Linked DNA regions of Homo sapiens: region 2 is linked to region 1. A link means that fine-mapping ties the variant in region 1 to the expression of a gene that starts in the linked region. Tissue or cell type: nucleus accumbens. Region 1 holds a variant in brackets; the other region holds the start of a gene. All regions are shown on one strand. Distances are from middle to middle.

Region 1 (8,104 bases):
CTTAATAAACCTGCTTTCACTCTGCACTGCGGACTTGCCCTAAATTCTTTCTTGTGCGAGATCCAAGAACCCTCTCTTGGGGTCTGGATTGGGAGTCCTTTCCTGTATATCTCTGTTCTGTAACACCTTGAGGCTCATTTTGTGTGTTTCCTTTCTCTCAACAATCACAGTTCTGCACTGTGTAATGTTCAGTGTCTGAAAACACCTGCTTCATGTTTGTCTAATTTAATAGTAGTTTTCTGTGGGAATGAAAGTCTAGTACTAGTTACACTGTCATGGCCAAAACTGAGGGCCTTTTGGGTGTCTTCTAATACCCTTGATTCTTATTGGCAGCTGCCTACTCTGAGTAAATGCCCAACAAAATACGAAACAGCTCAGCTTCATGTCTTCCAACCAACCTCAGAAAAAAGATAAAGTCTGATTTAAATTTCATATCAAAAGCAATATTTCAACTATTTAAAGCTACAATAAATATACAACCATACGGAAATCTGTAACCAAATATAAAACCCTCTAAACTAAAACATTTAACACAGCAGAGACCACCAATGTAACACTGGGTTAATTCATTTTTGTGTAAAACCTGTAATAAAGTGTACCACCACATTTATGTTTAATTTAAGAGCCTCTTTACTCCAGAAGTATAAGGGGCCCAAATCAGAAAACCTATTGATATAATTTACCACATTAACAAACCAGGAAATTATATGGTTATTTCAATAGGAAAAGAAACAGTATTCAATAAAATTCAATCTATACACATAATAAAACATATATTACAATAAGAAAAGTAAAAATGAAAAGCTTAATGAAAGATATTTAATTTAAAAGCCACAGAAAACATCATATGTAACAGTGAAATTTAAAAATCATTCTCATTAAAGTCATGCTCAACACTAAGGTGTCAAGTGTCTCTGCTTGTATTCAACATGTCATTCACCATTTTTTTTTTCCCTGTGGTATCTCTTGACCTGGTCTCAAGGCAGCCAGAACTCCAGAAACACAATAAGCATTGATAAAAAGATCTCGAAGAGAAGCCCTCTAGTTCAGGCTCAAGAAGAGGAAAAGGGGTCTCCTGTTAATACAAGTTGTGGCAGCCAGAACCCACAGCGCTGGGAACTCAAAGAAAGAAGAGCCTTCCTCTTCAGTGAAAAGAGCTACTGTCCAAAGGGGGTGAGGCAAGTTCCTGTTGATTTTTCCTCTCTGCCCCCTACTCTCTCCAGATACACACTGGTTGGCCTTGGATATAGACATAGTTCCAGAAAGAAAGTGCAAAAGCAAAGTAAATAAAACTTCAGGTTTTTGGCTAGAGGACTAAAAAAGGAGAATCCCAGTACCAAGACTGCAGAAAAGGAGGAGCTTGGGAAACAATACCATTAAGGTGTTTATGAACTCCTGAAATCAACCTCAAGTTTAGCATTCAGGTTCTGATTCAAAGCAGCCTACAAAGACATTGAGAACTAAACTAAGAGACCATGACCCATGTCCCAGATTGACCACCAGAGGGTACACATGTAGGACAAATTTAAATAGGACTGCAAAGGCTGTTAAAAGTAAACTAATATAGAGACTTTATCCCAGAGAAGGCCACTCAGAATTTACAATCTAAGCCCAATCAGGTCAATTGGCTGCTAAAACAAAAATGTCAATATTCTCCACAGGGTATATACAAGACCCAGTCCTGTAGTACACAATATTGAAAATGTCCAGAATATAATACCAAATTACATGGCACATGAAGAACCAATGAAATTACAAATTGCATGAGAAAAGACAACCAACGGATGACAACAGTCAGATATTGGAACTCATCCAACAGTAAACCTTTCCAACTGATGCTAAATTTGTCTGACAAAGGCTTTGATAATTATCCCACTAGTAAGGGTAAACGTATTTATTTTTATTTTTAATTTTTTGAGACAGAGTCTGGCTCTGTTGCCTAGGCTGGAGTGGAGTGCATGATCTCTGCTCACAGCAACCTCTGTCTTCTGGGCTCAAGCCATCCTCTCACTTCAGCCTCATGAGTAGCTGGGACTGTAGACAGATACCACCATGCCCAGCTAACTTTGGTTCTATGTATGTATGTATGTATGTATGTATGTATGTATGTATGTATGTATGTATCTATCTATCTATCTATCTATCTAGTAGAAATGGGGTTTCACCACATTGCCTGGGTTGGTCTTAAACTCCTGGCTCAGGCAATCCACTTGCCTAGGCCTCCCAAAGTGCACGGAATAAAGGCATGAGCCACAGCACCTGGCCTAAGCATCTTTAAAATAAATCAGGTAATAGAAAGTCTCAGCCCAAAATAGAGCCAAACATACATAAATGTATATACAATACACAAAAGAACCAAATATAAAATCCAGAACTAAAACATACAATGAATAAAATGTTAAAACTCATTAGGTGTACTCAATAGCATAATTGAGATGACAGAGTGAAAAGTTCACTGGAACTTGAGGATAGATCAATAGAAATATTCAACCTTAAAAACTAAGAAAAGATTGATTAAAAATTAATCTGGGCTGGGTGCGATGGCTCATGCCTATAATCCAGCACTTTGGCAGGCTGAGGCAGGAGGATCACCTGAGTTCAGGAGTTCGAGACCAGCCTGGCCAACATGGTGAAACACTGTCTCTACTAAAAATACAAAAATTAGCTGGGTGTGGTGGTGGGCACCTGTAATCCCAGCTACTCAGGAGGCTGAGGAATGAGAATCGCTTGAACCTGGAAGGCAGAGGTTGCAGTGAGCTGAGATTGTGCCACTGCATTCCAGCCTGGACAACAGAGCAAGACTCTGTCTCAAAACAAAACAAAACAAATTAATCTGTGGGATAAAATAGAAATGCCTAGCATTTGTTTCATCTGAGTCGTAGAAAGAAATAATAAAGACTGCAGTGGAGACATAATATTTAAAGAAATAATGTATAGAAACTCTTCAAGTTTGGGGGAAAAAATAAACCTACAGATTCAAGAAGCTCAGAAAATTGCAAACAGCGAAAACACAAATAAATCAATGCAAAGACATATTACAATCAAACTTTGAAAATAAAGACAAAGAAAAAATCTTAAAAGCAGCCAGACAAAAAAAGATGCATTGCTTAAAAAAGGAAAACAGTACACAAGACAGTGGATTTCTCATCAAAAATTTCTGATACCAAAATAATAATAATAAAAAAATTTCAACCAAGAATTCTAGGTCCAAGAAAAATACTCTTCAGAAATGTACATCAAAACCACAATAAGATACCACTTCACATCTACTAGGATGGCTATAATAAAAAAGAGACAATAACAAATGTTTGCGAGCAGGTGAAGAAATTGAAACCCTTACACATTGCTCATAGGAATATAAAATGATGCAGCTGCTTTGGAAAACAGTTTGGCAGCTCCTAAAAAAATTAAATATAGAGTTCCATATGCCCCAACAATTCTACTTCTAGGTATAGACCCAAGATAATTGAAAACACATATTTACACAAAAACTTATACATGAATATTCATAGCAGCACTATTCATAATAGCCAAAAGATACAAACACTCCAACTATCAATCAATTGATGAGTAGATAAATATAATATGTTATATCCATACAATGAAATGCTATTCTGCTGTAAAAAATACTTAAGTTCTGATACATGCTAATATGGATAAAACTCAAAGAAATTGTGCAAAGTGAAAGAAGCCAGAAAGAAACCGCCACATATTCTATGATTTCAGTTGTAGGCAATGTCCAGAATAGACAGATTCATAGAGACAGAAAGATTATTGATGGCTAGGGGCTAGGTAGAAAAGAAGAATGAACTGCTAATGTATACAGGGATTTTACGGGTGGTGGTGGTGATATAAAGGTTCTAGCTTTAGGTAATGGTGATAGTTGCACAACTTTGAGAATATGCAAAAAAAAAAAAATAAAAAACAAATTGTGTACTTTAAAAAGGTACATTTTATGGTATGTGAAGTATGTTTCCAAAAAAAAGGAGAATAAAGAAGTTCTCATTTAAAGTAAAACCAAGAGAATTCATTGTCAGTGGACCTGCTCTAAGAGAATTGCTAAAGTAGTCACTAGACACAAAGGAAATGGTACCAGAAAGAAACTTCAGAGCAGAAATTTTAAAAAAGCAAAAGAAATTTAAAATATACGAAAAAATTGAGTAAACTATTCTTCTGTTGAATTCTTTAAAATATGTTATGTTTCAAAGTAAAACAATATTTTTAAATGAAATTTCAAAGTATGTAGATGCAATACGTAATAAACATATAGGCCGGGC[G/A]CGGTGGCTCACGCCTGTAATCCCAGCACTTTGGGAGGCCGAGGTGGGCGGATCATGAGGTCAGGAGATCGAGACCATCCTGGCTAACACGGTGAAACCCCATCTCTACTGAAAATACAAAAAATTAGCCGGGCGTGGTGGTGGGCACCTGTAGTCCCAGCTACTCGGGAGGCTGAGGCAGGAGAATGGCGTGAACCCGGGAGGTGGAGCTTGCAGCGAGCCGAGATGGCACCGCTGCACTCCAGCCTGGGTGACAGAGTGAGACTCCGTTTCAAAAAAAAAAAAAAAAATCATATAAGAAATTACAACATAAAGGGGGAAGAAGGAACCTATAGAGAGGTAAGATTTCAAAACACATGATACAGTAAAATACTGATTCTGTGTAGATAGTGAACATTTAAATGAAAATATTGTAATTACTAGGGCTACCACTTTTTTTAATTTAAAAAAAGTACGTACACAATGAGATGTATTCAAAAACACAAGATATAGAATTGAATTAAAAATTATTAAATAAGCCGGGCACAGTGGCTCGCACCTGTAATCCCAGCACTTTGGAAGGCAGAGGCGGGCTGAGGTCAAGAACTCAAGACCAGCCTGGCCAACATGGTGAAACCCCGTCTCTACTAAAAATACAAAAATTAGCTGGGCGTGTTGGCGCCCACCTGTAGTGCCAGCTACTCAGGAAGCTGAGGCAGGAGAATCGCTTGAGCCAGGGAGACGGAGGTTGCAGTGAGCCAAGATTGCACCACTGCACTCCAGCCTGGCCGACAGAGCAAGACTCTGTCTAAAAAAAAAAAAAAAAATTATTAAATAACCCAAAAGAAGGCAGGAATGGGAACACACAGGGATGATAAACAGAGGAACAAGGAGATACAAAGAATAAAATGATAGAACTACATTCAAACACATCAACAATTACATTACAGGTAAATGATCTAAATGCACCAAATAAAGAGATTGTCAGAACAAGTTTTTAAAAATACATAATCCAATTATATACTCTCTATAAAAATTCTGCTTCAAGCATAAAGATATCAGTACATTAAAATTAGGAGAAAAGATACAAAATGCAAACACTAACCAAAAGAAAGCTCAAGTGGTTATATTAATATCAGACAAAGTAGACTTCAGAGCAAACAAATTTAGCAGGATATCATACAATAATAAAAGAGTTCATTTATAAGAATTACATAAAAACCCTAAATGTATATGGAAGCTAAAAACAAACCTTCAAAATATAAAAACTGAAAATTAATTTTTGGACAAATTGGACTACATCAAAATTAAAAACTTTAACTCTGAAACAACACTGCTAAGAGAGTAAAAAGAAAGGCTACAGATTGGGAGAAAATATGCGCAAATCACATATCCAACATAAGACTTGCATTCAGAATCTAAAAGGAAATTTTTTAATTCAACAATAAGTAAGCAAACAACCAAATTAAAAAATGGGCAAAAGAGGTGAACAGACACTTTACCAAACAGTATTTAAGGAGAGCAAATGAGCACATGAAAAGATATTTAACATCGTTAGTCATTATGAAAATGCAAATTAAAACCTTGTTGAAATGCAATTACACACATAAATAAAAATAACGACAATGTCAAGTGAGAGTGACCATGCAGAACAGTTGGAACTGCAAACATTGCTGTGGGAATGCAAAATGGTTCAGCCACTCTGGGAAACAGCAAGTTTCTTATAAAGTGAAACACACACTTACCATATGACAGAACGTCAATTCTACTCCTGAGTACTTAGAGAAATATAAATTTATGTTCATTCTAAAACTGGTACAGGAATGTTGATAGAGGCTCTGTTTATAATTGCCCACTGGAAACAACCCAGATGTTCTTCAAGGGATGAATGGTTACATAAATGAGCCAAAGATGGCCTCTGTGTTTTGGCCCCTATGTTTATTGTAGGTTGAGACCAGTTAGCTCAAAATCCTGCCCAAACCAAACTCAAATTTGTACATACCGAGTTATTTATAAAATTGCCTGAACAAGCAAATTTTTAGCTATTTAGAGCTTTCCTGCTTTGCATACTCCAAGAAACCTCACCCAACAGCTGTTACCTACTGATAAATAGGGCCTTGCAGTTATAAAACCCAAAATTCCTGCTGCCTTTGGTTTGCCTGACCCAAGACTTCCTGCTGTGCTGCTGTGAGACACCCTTGAGATACATACATAAGCCCCATATTCAACCCTCCCTCCAGAGTTCTCTTGCCTTATTCCCTTTCTCATTGGTGGTCTCATTAGACTGTCTCATGCAACCCTGTCTTACTGCCACTCAATAAAGTTGTGTGTTACTGCCTCTCATTGTCATATGTTTTTCCTAGCTCAGTCCCCAAATCCCTAAAACCCTTAGGTGAATACATAAGCAAACTTTAGTACATCCACACAATGAAACACTACTTAGCACTAAAAAGCAACAAACTATTGATACACGTAGCAATCTGAATGCTCAGTAAATGAGGCCAGAATCAAAGTTGATACTACAGATTTCATTTATATAACAGTTTCCAAAAGACTACAGTGATAGAAAACAGATAACTGATTGTCAGGGATTCGGAATGGAGGTGAGTGTGACTTACAATGGAACAGAATCAGGAAAGTTTTGGGGATGATAGAACTATTCTGAATTCTGACTATGGTGGTGTTTACACATGTGTTAATATGCATGTATCTGTATACCAATATACCAAAAGGGCCAATCATGCATATTAACAACATACATATGTTAATATAACAGTTAATATAACAGTATATATATAACAGTATTACTATAACAGTTAATATAACAGTAACAACATACGTGTGTTAATATGCATGCATCTGTATACCAATACCAAAAGGGCCAATTCTACTGTATGCTAATTTTGTTTTGTTTTTTTTTTGAGATAGAGTCTCTCTCTGTCGCCCAGGCTGGGAATTTATAAAATTGACTGATTAAACCAGAAAGAATAACATTGTATTATATCATTTATTATGTGGATAGATAACAAAATATATACAATGATAGCATAAAGGACTGTAAGAGGAGAGTAGTTTTACTGTTAGAAGTTTCTTGCATTGTATAAGTAGTGGCACAGTATGTACTCTAAGTAGACTATGGTAAGTATATGTGTATATAAATACTTAGAAAAATCTCTAAAATATACAATGAAGTTAAGCTAAATATCAGTGGATAAATTAAAATGAAACACTAAAAATATCTGATTAATCCATGTGACGGCAAGAAAGGAAGAACAAAGGAAAAAAATAGTTGGGATGACTAAAAAAACAAATAGCAATATGATAGATATACTTAAACCCAGCCATACCAATAATTACATTAAATGTAAATGTACTAAACATTCCTATTAAGATGCAGTAATAGTCACACTAGATATTAAAAGCAATATCCAACCATATGCTACCTATAAGAGGCATACTTTATATATAAAACTGCAGATTGTTTGAGAGTACTAAGATGCAAATAAATATTCCACACAAAGAGCAAGCCTAAGAAAAACAACTATTTGTTTGAATAACATTATTAGCCAATTTTACTGGGTTAACAATAAACATTGCATCCATACACTATAAATATGTAACTTGTTTATGTGCACATGAAACATATATTTTAGATACAATATGCTGGGACACAAAATAAGTCTCAATGTTTTTAAAGGATTGAGATCTTACATAGTAGGTTCTCTGACCACAACAGAATTAAATTAGAAATCAATAAAAATAACATGCCTGGAATTATGCAAAATATTTAGAAATTAAACAACTACTACCTAATGCATAGGTCAAAAAAAAAATCTCAAAGGAAATTG
Region 2 (8,104 bases), 740 kb before region 1:
TGGAGAGGATGTGGAGAAATAGGAACACTTTTACACTGTTGGTGGGACTGTAAACTAGTTCAACCATTGTGGAAGTCAGTGTGGTGATTCCTCCGGGATCTAGAACTAGAAATACCATTTGACCCAGCCATCCCATTACTGGGTGTATACCCTAAGGACTATAAATAATGCTGCTATAAAGACACATGCACACGTATGTTTATTGCGGCACTATTCACAATAGCAAAGACTTGGAAGCAACCCAAATGTCCAACGATAGACTGGATTAAGAAAATGTGGCACATATACACCATGGAATACTATGCAGCCATAAAAAATGATGAGTTCATGTCCTTTGTAGGGACATGGATGAAATTGGAAATCATCATTCTCAGTAAACTATCGCAAGAACAAAAAACCAAACACTGCATATTCTCACTCATAGGTGGGAATTGAACAATGAGAACACATGGACACAGGAAGGGGAACATCACACTCTGGGGACTGTTGTGGGGTGGGGGGAGCGGGGAGGGATAGCTTTAGGAGATATACCTAATGCTAAATGACAATTTAATGGGTGCAGCACACCAGCATGGCACATGTATACATATGTAACTAACCTGCACATTGTGCACATGTACCCTATAACTTAAAGTATAATAATAATAAAATTTAAAAAAAAAGAAAGATGATCTCACCACGACCAAGTGCAATTTATTCTTAGAATGCAAGGATATCTTAAAACATGAATTTTTTAACATATAAAAATTGATCAATGTGTACACATTAACAAAATAAAAGAAACATTGATCACCTCATGGATGCAGAGAAAAGTATTTTATGAAATTCAAAATCTTTTCAGGGTGAAAACACTCAAAAAAGTAGGAATTTTAAAACTAAAATACTACCATTGTGAAATCCACACATTAAAAAACCACATCAAACAATGTACTCCAGGGTGAAAGACAAAAAGCTTCTGCTCTAAGCTCAGGAACAAGGCAAAGGTGTCTGCTTTTGCTATTTCTATTCCACATAGTGTTGGAAGTTCTAGTCAAATTAAGAATTAAAAAGAAACAAACTATCCAAATTGGAAATGTAGAGGTAAAATTACTCTAGCCTACAGATAATATAATTTTATGTGGAAAGCTCTAGAGATTTCACAGATCCACACAAAAAGTATTACAACTAATAAATTCAGCATAGTAGCAGCATACAAAATTAACATGCAAATATCACTTGTGTTTCTATACAGTAATGATGAATAATTAGAAAACAAAACTAAGCAAACAAGCACATTTACAATAGCACTGAAAAGAATAAAATACGTCGGGAGTAACAAAAAAAGCAAAAAATTCTATTTTGCAGAAATAGAAAAATCCTACCTAAATTTCATATGGAATCTCAAGGGACCCCAATGAGTCAAAATTATCTTGAAAAAGAAGTCCAGTGTTACAAAATGTACACTTATTCATTCCAAAGCTTAATACAAAGTTCCAAAATAGTGTGGTACTGGCAAAGAGACACACATATGGACACTGGAACAGTATAAAGCAGCATATGGTCAAATAATTTTTGATGGGGATACAAAGACCGTTCAATGGGCAAAGGACTGTCTTTATAACAATTGGTGCTGGGAAAAAATGGATATCCACAAGCAAAAGGATGAAGTTGAACATTTACCCTACACCATAAACAAATAAAAATGCATCAAAGACCTAAAGGTAAGAACTTAAAGTATAAAATTTTTGAATAAAATATAAGTAGAAAACATCATGACAATATCACAAATATAATGACACATTTAAAAAAGTAGATGTGGCCAGGCATGGTGGCTCACGCCTGTAATCCCAGCACTTTGGGAGGAGGAGGCAGCCGGATAACGAGGTCAAGAGATTGAGACCATCCTGGTCAACATGGTGAAACCCCGTCTCTACTAAAAATACAAAAATCAGCTGGGCGTGGTGGCGCATGCCTGTAGTCCCAGATACTTGGGAGGCTGAGGCATAAGAATCGCTTGAACCCAGGAGGTGGAGGTTGCAGTGAGCCGAGACAGGCCACGGCACTGTACAGCCTGGTGACAGAGCGAGACTCTGTCTCAAATAACTAAAAAAGAAAAAAAGAAAAAGTAGGTGTAAAACTATCCATAGTAGATACTCTCATTTACATAAAATCCAGTAAGAAAACAAAACTGAAGTTCTGGCTTCCGGTAATACTGGAGTAGCTTGCTAAACTAACACTCTCACAGATAACAATGATACAATCTGGATAAAATATTATATATAGTTACATAGAAACATTCATCTATATACAATACATACATACGTGTGTGTGACTGAATGAGAATTTCAACCTTTCCCACCGTAGGGAAGATAATTATTCTGTTTGAATTCAGCCACATTTACCCCCTCTTCAAATAATAACAATGCTCTTCCAAAGAATACAACAGAATTTAGTCTCTATAACTAATATTTATAATTTCTATTACACAATATTAAAATTCATAAAATGTGTGAAGAAATGTAACATGCAAACTATACACAAGATAAAAAGCAGGCAGCAGAAGCTATTTCTAAGATGTCCGAGATGATGTAATCAGCAGACAAGTATTTCAGGGCAGCTATTATAAGTACGTTCATGGGGGTAAAGGAAAATATTCTCATAATGAATTAACTCATGTAGAGTCTCAGCAGAGACATGGAAATTATAAAAAGAGTAAAATAGAAGACAATAAAATAATAAAATAAAAAGAACTTTTAGTTTACAGAGTAGAAACAGAAGACAGCAATATAAACCATCCAATCTGAAGACTGAAACAAGTTTAAAGAAAATGAAAAGAGGCCTAAGAGACCTGTGAAATGATTGAGTCTGAGACAGAGAGGGAGAGACAGAAAAATTAAATATAATACAAAAACAAATAAACAATAGCTGAAAATTTAAAAACTTGGTCAAAACCGCAAATTCTTATATTCAAAAGGTGAACACACTCCAAAACAAAAACAAAAACAAATAAAACCATATCGAGGCCCTACTGTGATTTAGAAAACTGGCAGAGCAAGATTTTCCAGGGAGTTGCTATGATTTCTCATTTTCACTATTTATAATAATGGAAAATATGCACTCCTTAGTTTTCTTCTTGGAGAAAGTCTGACTTGTCAAACACAGATGACTTTTCAGTTTAGTTTTCAAGGTTTAATTTCTTACCTTGGAAATCAATTAAATTTGTTTCTTTAAAATGTCGCAGTAAAATTGCTCCTCCAGACAGATGTCCACGGAGATTCTGTCCTGCTGCGTCCGCCTTTCACAGAACTGAGGTTGTTCCTACACCAGTTTCAGAAGCGTGTAGGCACGCTTTATTACAGTGGCAGCAGCGTCCCTGTGCGAGGTCTAACCCAGGTGTGGGCCCTGCAGCCAGCCCGGGGGTCCAATGGGTCCTCCTATGGAGCACAGGAAGAATCGTGGCAGGCCAGAGATAGACAAAAGGTGGCTTTTAAAAGGGAAGTGTCAGGTTACCAGGGACTGGGTACTTTTACACGCGGACCTTCGGCCCTGCCCATAGAAAGGGGCAGCACTGCGCATCTCTGAAGGAGTGTGGCAAAGGGTGGGGCAATAAGAAGGGTGGGGCAGAAAGGAGTGGCCCCTCAGGAGGAAGGGGCGGGGAGATCCCAGCTACTAGAGGACGCCCGTTCCAATGGCAACTCTGCCAAGGCGCCTATGAGAGCCTCTTGGCTTTTACCTGGTCTGCGAGAAATCAAACTTTGGGCACAAGTCATGAAGCCGACAAGCCCGGGAGACACAGTGTCAGAATTACAAGGTGAGATCAGCCGCCCGGCCAAGCTATCTTCTCGCTAGCAGGTGAGGCCCGTGAACAGCCAAGCTCCCCTTGGCACGGCGGAACCGCAGTGGACGCGTGGAGGGGCTCCGTAGAGGAGGGACCTTTGCTTGGGATGCGGGGAGCTGTAGTCTCTTATCTGCACCCAGCTTGTTAGTTGTACGCCTGCAGGACTACAATCTCAGCACAAAGCAGGATTGTAGGGCGGTGCGGATCCCTGGAGGGAGACAGCGCGGTGCGCTCCTGCCGGCCATGCTGGCTGGGGTGGTGTCTTAGGCGGTTCCAGCCGTTAGTCACAGGGCGGCCGGACTACAATCCCAGCATACAACGGGAGTGGAGGTGGTGACCTTGAGAGAGGGCCTGTGCTGTGCGCGCCTCGCGGGGCATGCTGGGAGCAGTAGCATCTTAGCTGCTTCCGGCCGCTGGTCGCAGGGCTGCGGGACTACAATCTTCGCATGAAATGGAAGAGAGGGTGGTGCGGATAGCTTGAGGAAGGTACGGATACCTTGAGGGAGGTATGGATACGTTGAGGGAGGTACGGATACGTTGAGGGAGGTTACGGATACGTTAAGGGAGGTACAGCAGCGGTGCGCGCCTTGCAGGGCATGCTGAGAGGAACAGTTTTTTAACTGCTTCTGGCTGTTGGTGGCAGAGCTGCGGGACTACAATCCCAGTATGCTACGGGAGTGGGGATGATGCTGGTCCCTTGAGGGGGGGGGGCAGCGCGGTGCCCTCCTGCCGGGCATGCTGGTAATAGTGTCTTAGCTGCTTCCGGCCGTTGGTCGCAGGGCTATGGGACTACAGTCTCAGCATGCGCAGGGTTCAAGGGTGTTGCGCAGCCCCGCAGGGAGGGGCAGGGCGGTGTTGACCTCTGTTTCCAAACCCATGCTGGCTACTGAATCTGTGCCACCCCTGGCTAAGGGGAGTGAGTCCATAGAGGGACTTGAAGGGCAGGTCTGGGCTGGGCAGTGAGGAGAGTATGATACTGCAAAGTGCGCCTCGCCTTTGCCAAAATCGGTCGGGTCTCAGGCTCACCCCACCTCCCGCTGCTCAGTTCCGTTTCCCTCCAGAGCATCAAGCCTCCTCCCGCCCAGGGGGCCTCCTGCTTTCCTAAGCTGCTGTGGAATCGGCCTGAGGTCCCAGACGCTGTCCATTGTGCTGCTGCTCTCTGCTTTCTCCAGCCAGAGTGCCAGTTCATCCGCTTTTGGGAGAACTCCGCCGCCTGGCCTGCCCGCGGAAAAGGTCACAGCTTTGCAGGGGGTGACATGGGCTATGGCTTCCTGGAAATGTCACCCTCACTAGCGCCTTTTAGATAGATGTGAATTTTGAGACATGAGGGAGAGTAATTATTGGTTTACCCAGGAGATGCTAAGAGCAGAGGAGAAAACCCTAATTTCCAGGCATGTGTCCTGAGCCAGGGACAGGCTGGCCAGACCCTAAGCCCCCAGTGCCGCCAGAGAGCAGCCTACTGCCCTGATTTGTGTGGAATCCCCTTCGTGCTGCTGGGCCTTAGCGTCAGGGACAGCCCAGTCAGGTGAAGGTGGGGATGACCCATGGGCTTCTGGAAGTGGGTTGGTGGTCCTGGGAGGGCCAGCCCATCCCCCCTTGGAGAGGGTCTTTGTGCTGAAGGATGCCCACAGAGGCCTGGGTACCAGGAACACTGCTCTAGGCAAGGTGCCTTTCTTCCAGATTTGGCTGAAAGGAAGGAAGACTTGGTCAGCTTTTCCACCCAGCCATCTGGCCCTTACAGGGCTGCTCCCCATGGACCTGGGTTTGTAGAGTCCTCCAGGGCTTTGTGTGGCCCACTAGTTCTGATACTGAGGACACCCCTGCAGGCTGTTAATTTCAGAACAAGGGGTGTGTGCAGACTGGGGCATGGGTGCTGTCAGGGTACCCCAGGCTGCTCCAGGGACGGTACCCCAGTGTTCAACTTGGCTTGGGGCCCCCTGCCTCATGCCCTTACTCCAGGGCTGCTTGGCCTGGGCTTGAGCCATGGTCCAGAACTCAGGTGGCCCCATTGCCACCTAATATAAGGGCCTGTCTCCACAGTGGGTGAGACGCCCCTGGGCACTGGGCTCTTCAGTCATCCAGGGCTATCCACTCCATGGCATGAGTTCCCACATTCAGCTGAACTCTGTCTGGCTCTGGACTGGGGTCCCTCCTGTGCCCTTTCCCTGAATCCTCTCTGGGTCCGAGACACTGATCCTCTTCACTCTCTGGCTTAAGGCTTGTTCTCCTGACCTCCTTGGAGGGGTGCTCAGGATTGAGGACCCCTGCTGTTCTCTGGGGCTGTTGGTACTCGGAGGTGTGGGTGTTGGCTTGCACTGAGAAGTCCAACCCCTTCAGTGCCCTTCAGGGGTCCTTTAAGAGCAGGAGTGATAGGGTGTGGGGGAGTGCCTTAGAGGGGTCTTGCCCTCATCCCCTGCCCTGTCTCTGAGACGTGTCCAGTAAACCTGAGGTCAGCACCTCAGGAATGAAATAATGTCTTTTGCAGCAACTTGAATGAAGCTGGAGGCCATTATTCCAAGTGAAATAACTCAGGAATTAAAAATCAAATGCCATATGTTCTCACTTATAAGTTGGAGCTAAGCCATGCGTATGCAAAGGCATGCGGGGTGACATAATGGACTTTGGAGACTCAGACATGAGGGTGGCAGGTGGATGAAGGATGAAAAAACTACCTGTTGAGTACAATATATACTACTCAGGTGACAAGTGCACTAAAATCTCAGAATCCAACACTATATAATTCATTCATGTAACCAAAAACCACTTGTACCCAAATGATATTGACATTAAAAAAAATTTAAAACTAACAAAATTTATAATAAAAGCTTTTTAAAAAATAAAAAATAAAAACAGTGTCAAAGTGTTAATTTATTGTGCATTGCATAGCAAGCCCCTTTTGCTCAGTACCACACTCACTACTGGAGAAACAAAACCTTGAAAATTAAAGAAGAACCTGCACATAAATGATAATTCTGATAAGTTATTTATACACTGCCTACATGAATATTACAGATATGTGTTAAAGACAAAGATCTATGTTAGATTGGGTCAGCTTTATGCTTGGTCATTATATTTCCAATTCTTCTCTCTCAAAATACAACAGTCATGGGTTGCCATGGTGATTATTCCAAATGCATTGTGATCATATGGAACTGGTGACGTGTTCTCATTTCCCTTTCAGTTATAAAATAAGCCTGATGTTCCTAGCCATCAAAATCTCACTAACACCTAACTACTTCAGTTTCAACTGTGGTTCCTATTTCAAGACAATCACTCAAGGTTGCAAATCACAGAAAGACAAGAATGTTTTCATTAACCAAAACATTAATCAAAAATTATACCCCTTGAGGCCATGTAATTTGGTTTTTATTTAGTTTATTGTCTATTCAGGTCCATAAAGCCTACAACTGCAACAATATATACAGTTCATGATGACTTAATATTTATTGAATAGTAAAATTAATACATGTTAAGAGTAGATCTGGCTTCAGGTAATCAGGGCTGAAGTGATATGTGCAGTGGTCAAGGACAAATGTCAATGTATAATCTGACCTCCTGCACTCGAAACACACATCAATACTTTAAATGCCTCAGAAGAAAGTCACGTAGGAGAATAAATGAAAGAAAATAGAAAAGTTGTTAATTAGATTAAGAAGGAATTAAACCTGGTTTTAAAATAGAGAGATAAAGACATACAATATAAAAATACTGAAGAACAAGTAGCATAGGCAGAGGAGCACTAAAGGTATAACAGGAAAGAAATATATCTAAAAATATTAGTTTCTGAGTTAAGATTGTAGATGTAGAGACCTGACAAAAAGAGTTGTTCCTACACATTAACCAACCAAACAAACAAAAAAGCTGGAGAAACTACAAACGCATGGTCGATTTCTCCTGAGCCCTTTAGAGAACTGAGGTCATGGGGAAGACAACAAACTCAACATCAGGGCATGCAGGAGCCTGGCCCCAGGCTTTCAAGTGCACCCTGGTGAACTGGTATAATTAAGCCAGAACATTTGAACTAGTTCCTGGTGGCTGTGTGTCAGTGGGTGAGGAGAATGAGAAACCCTGGAGTCTACAGACATAGAGTTTACATTTTTCTGTATATTTTTTCTAGGAACACTACAAGGCCTGTTAGAGAAGAAAGGGTAGAATCCCGAGAATGTTTTCCCCACAGTGCTGATAAGGAGAGACCACTATCCCATCTACTGCTACAGCTCTGGAGACAGAGCTCTCCCACCTGTCATATAGAACACAAGGACCAATCTGCAGAGAAAGAGCATCCAA

Evidence for each region. PIP is the estimated chance that this variant, and not a neighbour inherited with it, causes the effect.
Region 2: it holds the start of LINC02987, and the variant in region 1 is fine-mapped to the expression of LINC02987 in nucleus accumbens (GTEx, PIP above 0.99).

The regions. Positions count from the first base shown.
Region 1 is chr19:28,529,099-28,537,202 of GRCh38, forward strand. It overlaps the pseudogene LOC100420587. Among named protein-coding and RNA genes, the nearest start is that of ERVE-5, 74 kb to the right of the region's middle. The variant G/A (reference allele first, on the strand shown) is at 4,278.
Region 2 is chr19:27,789,820-27,797,923 of GRCh38, forward strand. It overlaps LINC02987 (long intergenic non-protein coding RNA 2987), which reads left to right and starts at 3,612. Exons shown (of 7, transcript NR_146733.1): 1 at 3,612-3,790. LINC00662 (long intergenic non-protein coding RNA 662) reads right to left here and starts at 4,121. Exons shown (of 3, transcript NR_027301.1): 1 at 3,713-4,121; 2 at 3,181-3,413; 3 at 674-2,082. RefSeq lists enhancers at 3,854-4,333, 5,500-6,281.